Regions from separate parts of the Homo sapiens genome. Here region 2 is linked to region 1. Evidence: fine-mapped expression QTL. A gene starts in region 1. The other region holds a variant in brackets. All regions are shown on one strand. Distances are between the middles of the regions. Region 1 holds the start of LINS1 (lines homolog 1). Region 2 overlaps LINS1 (lines homolog 1).

Evidence for each region. PIP is the estimated chance that this variant, and not a neighbour inherited with it, causes the effect.
Region 2: its variant is fine-mapped to the expression of LINS1 in whole blood (TOPMed, PIP above 0.99).

What each region holds. Positions count from the first base shown.
Region 1 is chr15:100,599,454-100,604,953 of GRCh38, reverse strand. LINS1 (lines homolog 1) reads left to right here and starts at 2,770. Exons shown (of 7, transcript NM_001040616.3): 1 at 2,770-2,833. ASB7 (ankyrin repeat and SOCS box containing 7) reads right to left here and starts at 2,365. Exons shown (of 6, transcript NM_198243.3): 1 at 1,908-2,365; 2 at 1,641-1,739. RefSeq lists silencers at 1,583-1,632, 2,083-2,342 and an enhancer at 2,513-2,852.
Region 2 is chr15:100,565,616-100,570,828 of GRCh38, reverse strand. It overlaps LINS1 (lines homolog 1), which reads left to right. Exons shown (of 7, transcript NM_001040616.3): 7 at 712-3,905. The coding sequence ends at 1,591. Among named protein-coding and RNA genes, the nearest start is that of LINS1, 34 kb to the left of the region's middle. The variant G/A (reference allele first, on the strand shown) is at 2,126.

The DNA.
Region 1 (5,500 bases):
AAATATTTAACTGAGAGGCTTGAATACAAAACACAGTACTTCATTTTGATCTTTAGAACATACTTCAAATATTTTAGCATTTTTTAAAAGTTCTGAAGTAATCATTAGGCCATCTCCCTGACAACTTCCATACTTACATAATAAAAATTAGCCTTTAAAGATTTCCGGGTAGCTTTTACTGAAATGATGTAGTCTAGTACTCCTGATTCCCTACATATACATACAAAAGCTGCCCTAAGTTTTCAACAGGGAACAGTCATTGGTAGATACTGATTCTAAATCCTATTCCCTAGAATCTCTTCTTTTGGCATGCAGTTCCATGTCTCAAGAATATGCATACCTCAGATCCCCTTAAAAGCTATGTCTTTATCTCTTTAGCTATGTCTTAAGAATTAACAGAATCAGTAAAGATACTAATTTCTTTTTGTGGAGGGCAGAAAGTCCAGTGGAACATAGGAAATCAAAAATATTAACTTCTGCTATTTTAAGCACTTCCTTGTAACAAAAATTCCCTAAACAATTTGGGATATTAAAATAACTCAGATTAACAAGTCACTTTATACTTTTGCTACTGGATGTTAAAAAAGTCATCCATTTGGCTAATTTTGGAATTAAACCTTGTATAATTTCCATGCTTATATCCCCCCTTTAGGAATTACACTAATGTCCTAAGTTTACTTTCAGAGCATTTTCAGAAGCAGCAACAAAATATGGCAGCAGAAATGTGATCACATGAATTAGATGCTTAAATTTCAATCCAGCAAACTCTACGTAAAAGTTTTAAAATGAGAAATCTTTTTTATAGAGTGCTAAAATTAAGACCCAGATATGTAAACACACCAAAAGGTTCCTTTGTTTTTAAATTCCTGAGTCAAACGATTAATAAGATATTGTGCAAATTTTTAAAAGTTCTCCTAGAAAATCTGAGGTGTAAGAAACATTGTATCTTTATAAGTTTCAAAGCCCATCCACATTTGTCACACACAAACACACAGAAAGCCCAAAGAGTTAATTATGCCTAAGTGCTTCAGGGTAATAATGTTGTCTTCATACCATTCACACTCTTAAGGTACACAGGTTGGCTTTCTAGTAGGAAATAAAATCAAACTATTTTCTGAAACTCATAAATCTCAGGCCAATAATTTACCTTTCTCTACCAAATCGTTGTCAGTTAGATAACTCAAAAGATTTTTCTGATGCAGGTAGAAGAAAGGTGATAGGAAAGAGTAAGGGGGAAAACAGTAAATTGTGGTTTAATTAAAAAGGAAAGTCATTCAGAATTAACAAGCAATTAACAAGGAATTGAGGAATTCCTATGAGAGTAAGGAAGGGAGGGTAGCTACAAAAAGGTCTCAAAGCCTCAGAGCAGAGTAAATGGCACAGTGTACCAAAAGATAATGAAAAACACAGAAACACACTGTACAGAAAGAAAGTGGGAAAATACTGTCCTGGGTAGAGAAGTTATAAAATGTTAAGTATCAGGCACGGGTAATGTTTTTGTTTTTCCTGGGAAACTGGGGGTGGGGGTGGGGGGGGTAGGAAAGGTTGCATTCCCAGGCAACCACCCTGAAAATAAACCACTGCTTAATGAGGTAGGGGCCAGGAATAAACAACGGGGGAGGGGAGGGCTGGCTCATTACCTTTACAGACGATGCTGGTCAGAGGCACTGTGCCTTCTGCTTCTCTGATAGGTGGGCAGACCTCTTCCTGCTTTCGCGTCTTCTTCAGCCAGCTCAAACCTAGAAAAACAGAAACCAGTGAGTGGTGTAGTGTCTCAGAGGTGGGGAGGGGGGAGCTCAGGAAAGGGGCTGGAGAGTGGCAAGGGCAGGCAAGAAAAAGCAGAGATTTTCCTCCCTCCTACCCTCCCAGCCAGCACTCTTCCCCTCGGGGGAAGTAAAGGACTTTACCTGTCTCCTCAGCTGCTGCTTCTCTTCCTCCTTTCAGCCTCCTCTACACTCACCAACTTCTCCATTGAAGAAATACCCCAGGCAGGGCCGGACCCTGGTGTTCCTGATCCTCCTCGGTGCCTCACGGCCCCAGCCCGGCGAACATCCGAACAGCCGAGAAGGCAGGAGGTGGCGATCCCGGCCGCCGGGCAGCCTTGGGGCAGAGGTGCAGGGAGGCAGGGAGGAAGTCCTGGCTCGGGTGGGGGGGCAGTCCCGGTCCAGGGCTCGGAGCAGGGGGCTGCCGCGCTCCGGGCCGGAGGCTTCCAGCTACGGAGGGACCCAGGAGGTCTCGGGACGGCGAGGTCCCAGGTCATACGGGGCCCGAAGTGCCAGCCGTGGGGTCTCCGGACAGGGGGCTTTCGGGATGCACTTTGCACTGGGCCACCCCCGCCCCCTCCCTTCAGCACTTTGGGGTCACTGGGATGGGACCAAGCCTTCAACAACCAATCAGCGCCCGCAGTGGAGCCTGAGCCTGGAGCCGTAAACCAGGTCCGGGATGGGTGGGGGTGGAGGGAGTAGGGACGACTTGGTTGGTTGGTTGCTTCCTTCTCTCCTCCTTACCCCCGGCAGCCCCCACCCTCTGCCTGCCGTAAAGTTGCCTTTGCATTCGCGACAGTTAAGGGAGGCGTGCCGAACGGGGCAGAGATTCGTCTCCGATTGGTCTCACTCACTTCCCCTTACAGCTTCCCCGTGGTGGCTTCCGAGGCTCCGCCCCTGGCGGAGGGACTCAAAGCCGTTGCTAAGAGACACTATTCGCCGAAGGCGGTCTCTGCGCATGCGGGAGGAGGTGCCAGCTTGTACTTTCTGTGAACTACGGTGGCCCAGAGCGGGCATTTGTGTTCCCTCAAATGGCGGTGTGAAGAGAGTTCGCCTGAGCCAGATCCCAGGCAGGTAACCGGGACCGGCCGCCGTGCTGGCAGCAGGGGAGGCACGAGTGCGGCCAAATGAGAGCCTGGTTCAGGGCTTAAGGTTGGGAGGGCGGCAGGCTCCAGGAAGCGAGTAGAGGGGTGCCTTGTTTCTCCGCCCCTGTTCAGCGCTTGTCAGACGCAAGTGCCCGGTCTTGGCGCGGCTGTCGGTCCTTGAGACCCCGTTAGCTTCCAGGCTGGCAATGCCTCGCCTGAAGTGGGAGAACGGACTCTCTTTGGGATAGCGATGACGATCCAAGGACCTTCCTGAAAGGATAGCAACGTTGGCGGGTTCCTGTGAATGAATGGAGAGGGGTCGTGGGGAAAACGCGAGATAGACTGATCAAGACACGTTTGTTAAGCACTTTATTCATTAGCAAGTGTTTACTGGCCACTGTTCTAGTCCCTGGGGAGACAACAGTGAACAAGATAGTGATTTCGGGGAAACAAACACAAAATTATCAGATAGGGATGGGTTATATGAGGAAAATCAAGCAGAATGGTGGAATCGATTTTGACCAGGACGTGATGGGCTGTATTAGATAGGTAGTGCTATGGTGTGAATATCTGTCCCCTTCAAAACTCATGTTGAAATTTAATCCCCAATGTGGCAGTACTGAGAGGTAGAGTCTTTAAGAGGTGGTTGGACCGTGAGGGTTCTGTCTTCACGAGTGGATTGATCTATTCATGGATTAATGGGTTATCACGGAGGTAGAACTGGTGGCTTTTTAAGGAGAGACTTGACAACTCGTGAGCCTGCTCAGCCCCCTGGCCACGTGATACTTTGCGGTGCTGTCTCGTGGTCCGTCAGTCTTAGACTTCCCAGCCTCCAAAACTAGACAATAAATTACTTTTCTTTATAAATTACCGAGTTTTAGGAATTATTTTATAAGCAACAGGAAACGGACTAAGACAGATAGGAAAGGTCTCTGAGGAAGTGACATTTGAGCAGGGATCTGAATGACAAAGAGCCAGCCATGCCAAGATCTAGGGAGAGAATTTTGCCAGCAGAGAGAATTAGAAATGCAAAGCCTCTGATGCTAGAATATGCTTTGCTGTTTACAGGAACTGCCAGAAAGAAGGCTAGGGTAGCTGAAGCAGAGTGGTAGGAAAATGACTGGTAATGAGACTGGGGAGTGGGGCATAGAGATGAGAAGACGCCGAGAGTCAGATCTTGAAGGGCCTTGGTAAGCCTTGTTTAGGAGTTTGGACTGTATCCTAAGGAAAGTGGATTGGTTTTTCAGAAGGAAGTGGGTGTAGGGTGGGCCTGGATACAACCACTTTGGAAGGGATCGGTTGCAGTTGTCCAGAGTAGAAGTGCAGTAGTGGCAGTGAAGATAGATTCAGCTTTTTAATTTTTGTCCCATTATACTTCCCAGCAATCATATTTCATAATTTCAACTTTCTAAATTTCCATTTCTTCTTGAAATTAGTAGCTGAATTATAATTAGAAACAACTTATTCAGGACTATTAAATGCTATCAATTTTTAGTAGCTTTCGGTCTTTCGATTCTACCATGATTTCTCCCTGTTTTTTTTTTTTTTTTTTTTGCTTAACAGCAGGACTCCAATGTAAACAAATAAAATAAAAGCGGTATTTTATTAGTATTGTTAAATGAAATGTATAGGAAGCCATTGTTTTAGATTAAACCCCTGCACTAGGCCCAACAGACCAGGCCAAATCAGAATGGAGTTGCTGGTGCTAGGTGTCACATAATCAAACAACTTAGAAATGGGCCAGTTGTCAAAAAATCCAGAAGATACACAGCAAGGAGTCAAGGAGGCCTGATTTACCTGAGCCAGCATGATAAAGAAGTCTCTCCTCCATTTGGTCTCTGTGAGGAAAGTTTAACTTTGAAATGACCAATCTGTCTTTTATTCTCTTTTTGCTTCTTCAACCGTTTTCAGCCCACCTCTGCTCAGCTAATCAGAACACCGTTTCTAAATTTTTAGTTGAGATGCTGCCAGATTCATAAATTGCTAATAAAAGCCATTTACATCTTTAAATTTGTTCAAATTTTGTTTGTTTTTGTTTTTGAGATGGAGTCTCCCTCTGTCGCCCAGGCTGGAGTACAGTGGTGCGAGCTTGGCTCACTGCAACCTCCGCCTCCCAGGTTCAAGCAGTTCTCCTGTCCCAGCCTCCTGAGTACCTGGGACTACAGACACACTCCACCACACCCAGCTAATTTTTGTATTTTTAGTGGAGATGGGGTTTTACCACGTTGGCCAGGCTGGTCTCGAACCTCTGACCTCAGGTGATCCACCCGCCTCGGCCTCCCAGAGTGCTGGGATTACAGGTGTGAGCCACTGCACCCAGCCTCAAATTTTGCTTTTTAACAGTTCAAATATAATGTACAAGTTCAGTTTTATAACATTTACTAATTATAGAGTCAAGAAGTTTTGAACTCCCAAAAAGAAGGAAAAAGAGGGAGAGAGAAATGAATAAATATGTAAATTGTTGTGGAGAACATATTCATTCTTATAGCAGACTCGGCACCCATGCAATTCATATGGTGTATTTGCTAAATGATAGTTAAGTAGAGAGATGGGGGCCTAAGAACTTGTTGGTGAAGAGCCTAGAAACAGAGTTGTCTCCTAATTCCTAGTTCTTTGTATTTCTGGCCATTTGTTTTTCATTAAAAATCCTGC
Region 2 (5,213 bases), 34 kb after region 1:
TTTGGTTGTAAATGATAGAAACCAACTCTAATTTGAGCAAAAGCCAGCATTTATTGGCTCATAACTGGGAATTCTAAAGGGTCAAGTTGGAGTCAGGTATAACTATATGTACAGGGACTATAATCAATCATGTCATCAATCACTTCTCAATTTTTCTCTGTCTCACAGTTTTGAATTCATTCTCAAGGCATGGCCACCGGCAGTTCAAGGCGTACCTCAGCCTTACAGTTATAATCTTCCATAGCTCCAGCAAAAGTCCCAGGGGAGACCTGATTAACCCACTTGGGTCACAGAGCCTTGTCAGAACCAGTCATTGTGGCCAGGAGCATGGAGTGCTCTGATTGGTCAATCTGGGTCACATGCCCACCCTTGTTGAGGGTAAGGAAGGAGGTTTAGGAATTATCTTACCACATGGAATTGGTTACCTATAAGAATGAGGAGTTCTGATGTCGAGAGAAAGAACAACAGGTAACTTTTATTGGGCAGACAAAAACTAGAACTGCCAAAGTCAGTGGATTTTGCTTTACTGAGTCAGATTTCTTTAGAGCTTATGGGGAAGGGAATGGGTTTTGAAATTTTTTCTTTTAAGAAGTGATGCATAGATTTAAAAGTAATCTAATAGGTTAATTTATGGTATGTGAATTATATCTGGTAAAACTGTTTATTTTTGTAAGGTCATTAATCTGCATTCTCCATTATCTTCATTTTCAGAGGATGTGAAGCCACTGAAAGCTTGACTCAGGGAAAAGAAATGTGGGACCATCACACACATGAAAATGGCTATAATCCTCACTGTATTTTCTTGTTCTTCTTGAAAAATATAGGATTTGATTCCACAGTTCTTCTTGACTTTTTGATTTCATCAGAAACCTGTTTTCTTGAATATTTTGTTAGATATTTAAAATTACTGCAAAAGGACTGGGATAATTTTTTCACCATTTGCAATAACTTTGATGCAACTGAATCTAAATATGACATAAGTATTTGTGGCTGTGTCCCCTCACTTGTCCAAGACCAAAGCTCCAACCAAACAATACCCCATCGTTTGACTGCTCCTCATAGTCACAGAGATGTGTGTGCTCGGCACTCCTGGGCTTCCGATGCTCCCTCTGAACCACTGAAAGCTGTGATGTCCAAGGGGGCTCACACCATGTGTGCTTCTAGTCTGTCTTCCCCCCGGGCCTCTCAAAGTCTGGTAGATTACGACAGCTCTGACGATTCTGACGTGGAATCCACAGAGCAGTGTTTAGCTAACAGTAAACAGACATCTTTACACCAGCAAGCAACTAAGGAGATTCAGGATGCAGCTGGGACAAGCAGGGATAAAAAAGAATTTAGCCTTGAGCCTCCATCAAGGCCTCTGGTTCTGAAAGAATTTGATACTGCCTTCTCCTTTGATTGTGAAGTAGCCCCAAATGATGTCGTCTCTGAAGTGGGAATATTTTACAGAATAGTAAAATGCTTCCAGGAACTACAAGATGCCATCTGCCGTTTGCAAAAGAAAAATCTTTTCCCATATAATCCAACTGCACTTTTGAAGTTGTTAAAATACATAGAGGTGATAAGTAATAAAACTATGAACACTTTGTAAAACATTGACATTTTATTTTCCAGGTATTGTTTTTCCTTAATATAAATTATGTCTCAATGAGGTAATAGTATAAAATCATCACCATAAAAGGGTTTTCTTTTTTTTTTTTTTTTTTGAGACAGAATCTCATTCTGTCGCTCAGGCCGGAGTGCAGTGGCGTGACTCGACTCACTGCAACCTCCACCTCCTGGGTTCAAGCAATTCTCCTGCCTCAGTCTCCCGAGTAGCTGGAATTACAGGTGCCCGCCACCACGCCCAGCTAATTTTTGTATTTTTAGTAGAGACGGGGGTTTCACCATGTTGCCAGGCTGGTCTCAAACTCCTGACCTCAAGTGATCCGCCTGTCCGCCCTCCCGAAGTGCTGGGATTACAGGCATGAGCCACTGTGCCCGGCTGGGTTTTCTAGACAAGTTCTTACTTTTTGCCTTATTGGAAGCAACCTAGTGACTGAAAAAGAGACATCAAGTGACAAGTCACTCATTATAGCTATATACCACTGGAGATTTATGGCAGTTCTAAGTGACACAAAATCGG[G/A]GGTGGTGATTGCGTTCCTCAGCTAGGGCTGCCGTAACAACTTGCCACGTGTGCCGCAGCTTCAGACACCTGGAATTATCCTCATAGTTTTGGAGGCCAGAATCCAAACTCAGGCTTCAGCAGGGCAATGCCCTCAGGGTCTGGAGAAGAATCCCACCCTGCCCCTTTCTGGCTTCTGGTGGCAGCCAGCCAGCCATGGTGTCCCTTGTCTTGTAGTGGCGTCACTCCAGTTCCTGCCTCACATGGCATTTTCCTGTGTCTGTGTCCAGTTTCCCTCCTACAAGGACATCGGTCATTGGACTAGGACCTACCCTCATCCAGTATGATCTCAACTTGATGACAGCTGCAAAGACCCTAATCCCAGATATGGCCACTTTCATGTGTCCTTGATGGACTTGAATCCAGGAGAGTCACTAACCAAATACAGTTACTATTTCCTTCTGGGGTATTTACACAGAAAGCGATATATTACAAATGTAAAATCTTAGCCGTTTCTTTGAGAAGTGATTATACCTGGCCTACTGTATGAACATGATTCTTTCTAAAAAAAAATTTAATCACTAATTTTCCTATTTAAAATTGTGACATGAATAATTATGTTCCATATTCTTGAGGGGAAGCCGTAAATTCCATTGTAATATGTTTGTGTAATAGGAGCAATAGCTATATTGTGCTGCGAAGTCTGGCATTAAGGCAGTCTAAAATATTGCCTGTACATTTTTTTTTAATGATCTCTTTGCAGAGAAACAGAACAAAGACTAAACCTACCGCACATTAAAATATATATTAAGGCTATGGTATTCGAAACAGTTTAGTACTTAATTCAGGTAGACATGGAAAAATCAGTGGAGCTAAATAGAAGGTTGCCGATTAAAATAACAGCGAAGTACCAGTGTTAGCCAAATAGCAATGCAAAGGTCAAAAGGTTTGCGTTTTAACATGCTGTCGGTGAGGCTATGCGTTAAGGCAGTTTCTACCGTAATTGAAAAAGCACGTCAAAGAATGTGTATTCAAGGATGCCACATAGTTTGTAAAAAATGTTAAGGTTTTAGAGTTTTACTAGAAATACCTGGTAAAGTAAGTCAGAATTTGTATAGTCAGTGGAATGGTAGATGCGTTCTATGCACGTTTGTGGATGTGAAACATCTCCAGTAAAAAACAAGTAAATACATGGGGCTTGCAATTATTTAGGGAAAGAAGCAGGGCGGGAGTAATACACATTCATATATATGCTTTTGTGCATGTATAAAATATGTATGTAAGACTACATAAGAAAGTCATAATAGTGGTTGCCTTGGGAGACAGGTCTGATGTGGAAGACAAAGTCTCATCTTTTTGTACTATTTTTAGTGGGATACATGCAGCACTGCATTAGGATGTTTCAATAACAGACCACATAGTACAGTGGTCCCATAAGACTATCAAGCCGTTATTTTTACTGTGACTGTCCTATGTTTAGGCATGTTTAGATACACGCATACTTACTATTGTGTTACAGTTGCCTACAGTATTCAGTACAGTAACATGCTGTGTACAGGTTTGTAGCCTAGGAGCAATGGGCTATACCATATAGCCTAGGTGTGTAGTAGGCTATGCCATCTAGGTTTGTTGAGTATACTCTGTGACATACATGACATGACAACAAAATTGCCTTACAGCTCATTTCTCAGAACATGTCCCTGTCATGTGACACATGGCTGTTTTTTGATGGAAATAACTGGGAAAAAAAAATCGACTCTTGTTCCTAAGGGTACATAAATGTTGAATGCATTATAACTCATGCTTATGCAGATGTGGTTTTGACTTGTGTTTCTCTATAAGGTTAGCAAGGAACTGTCAGCCCCTCATTACATGTAAAATGAGGGAAAAGCAATCTTACAGATATGCGAAGTTGGTGTTTCAGAATCTCTACATTTATAACTAACTCGAGTGTAAGTCAATTCATCACACACTCACTAAGCCCTGCTCTTGCTAAAGGTGACCCTTGGCTGGTGTGATCACTATCCTTGGCCTTTCTGAGCATCTAAGCGCTATTCCCAGAGTTACTTCTTAAAGGAACACAAAACTATTGATGCATGTCTGCACAGTGAATTCCCAGAGTACAACACAAGAGGAGTCTGTAACCTCACCCCTTCCAGTAAAAGAATATGGAAATACAAGTGAGCACATGGTGCTGTGCACCTGACTTATTTTAAAGCAGAAGAGATACAGAAAAGTGCACTATAAGTATACAGCTTGTTGAATTTTCAGAAACAGCACACCTGTGGAGCCAGTCCCCAGATCAAGAAATAGCATGAGGCACCCAGAAGTCCCTCTTGAATCCTCTCCCTGTCACTGTCCACCCCTGAAGGTAACTGTGTCATGAACTGAGACAACAGAGACAATCTTTGCCTGGTTTTCTCTTTCTTTTATAAATGGAGTCATAGATTATGTATTCTTTTGTTCAACATCATTTGGGAGTGTGTCCTGATTTATTTTTAAAATGTCAAGTACCTGGCCAGGCATGGTGGCTCACGCCTGTAATCCCAGCACTTTGGGAGGCTGAGGCGGGTGGATCACCTGAGGTCAGGAGTTCGAGACCAGCCTGGCCAACATAGTGAAACCCCGTCTCTACTAAAAATACAAAAAACCAGCCAGGTATGGTGGCACACACCCATAATCCCAGCTACATGGGAGGCTGAGGCAGGAGAATCGCTTGAACCCCAGAGGCAGAGGCTGCAGTGAGCTGAGATCGCTCCATTGCACTCCAGCTTGGGCAACAAGAGCAAAACTCCATCTCAAAAAAAAGTTAAGTACCCACATTTCAGCTATTATTAGTAACAAAATACTTTGACTCCTCATAATTCTCTGACACGCCTGATATGCTAGAACAGTGAGATTAGCAAACACTGGTCAAACAATAAATTGTATGGTAAACAGGTTATGCAGGGCCTTGTGCAACTGGCCCCAACCTGCTTCTCCAGGCTGTCTGTGGTTTTCTCCCCATCCACTGTTCCTTGCACAACTCTTGGCTCTTACATATTCATTCATCAAGCCCCATCTTCAGTGTTAGATTGTGAAGCCTTCCCCCATCCGTTCTTCACCATTC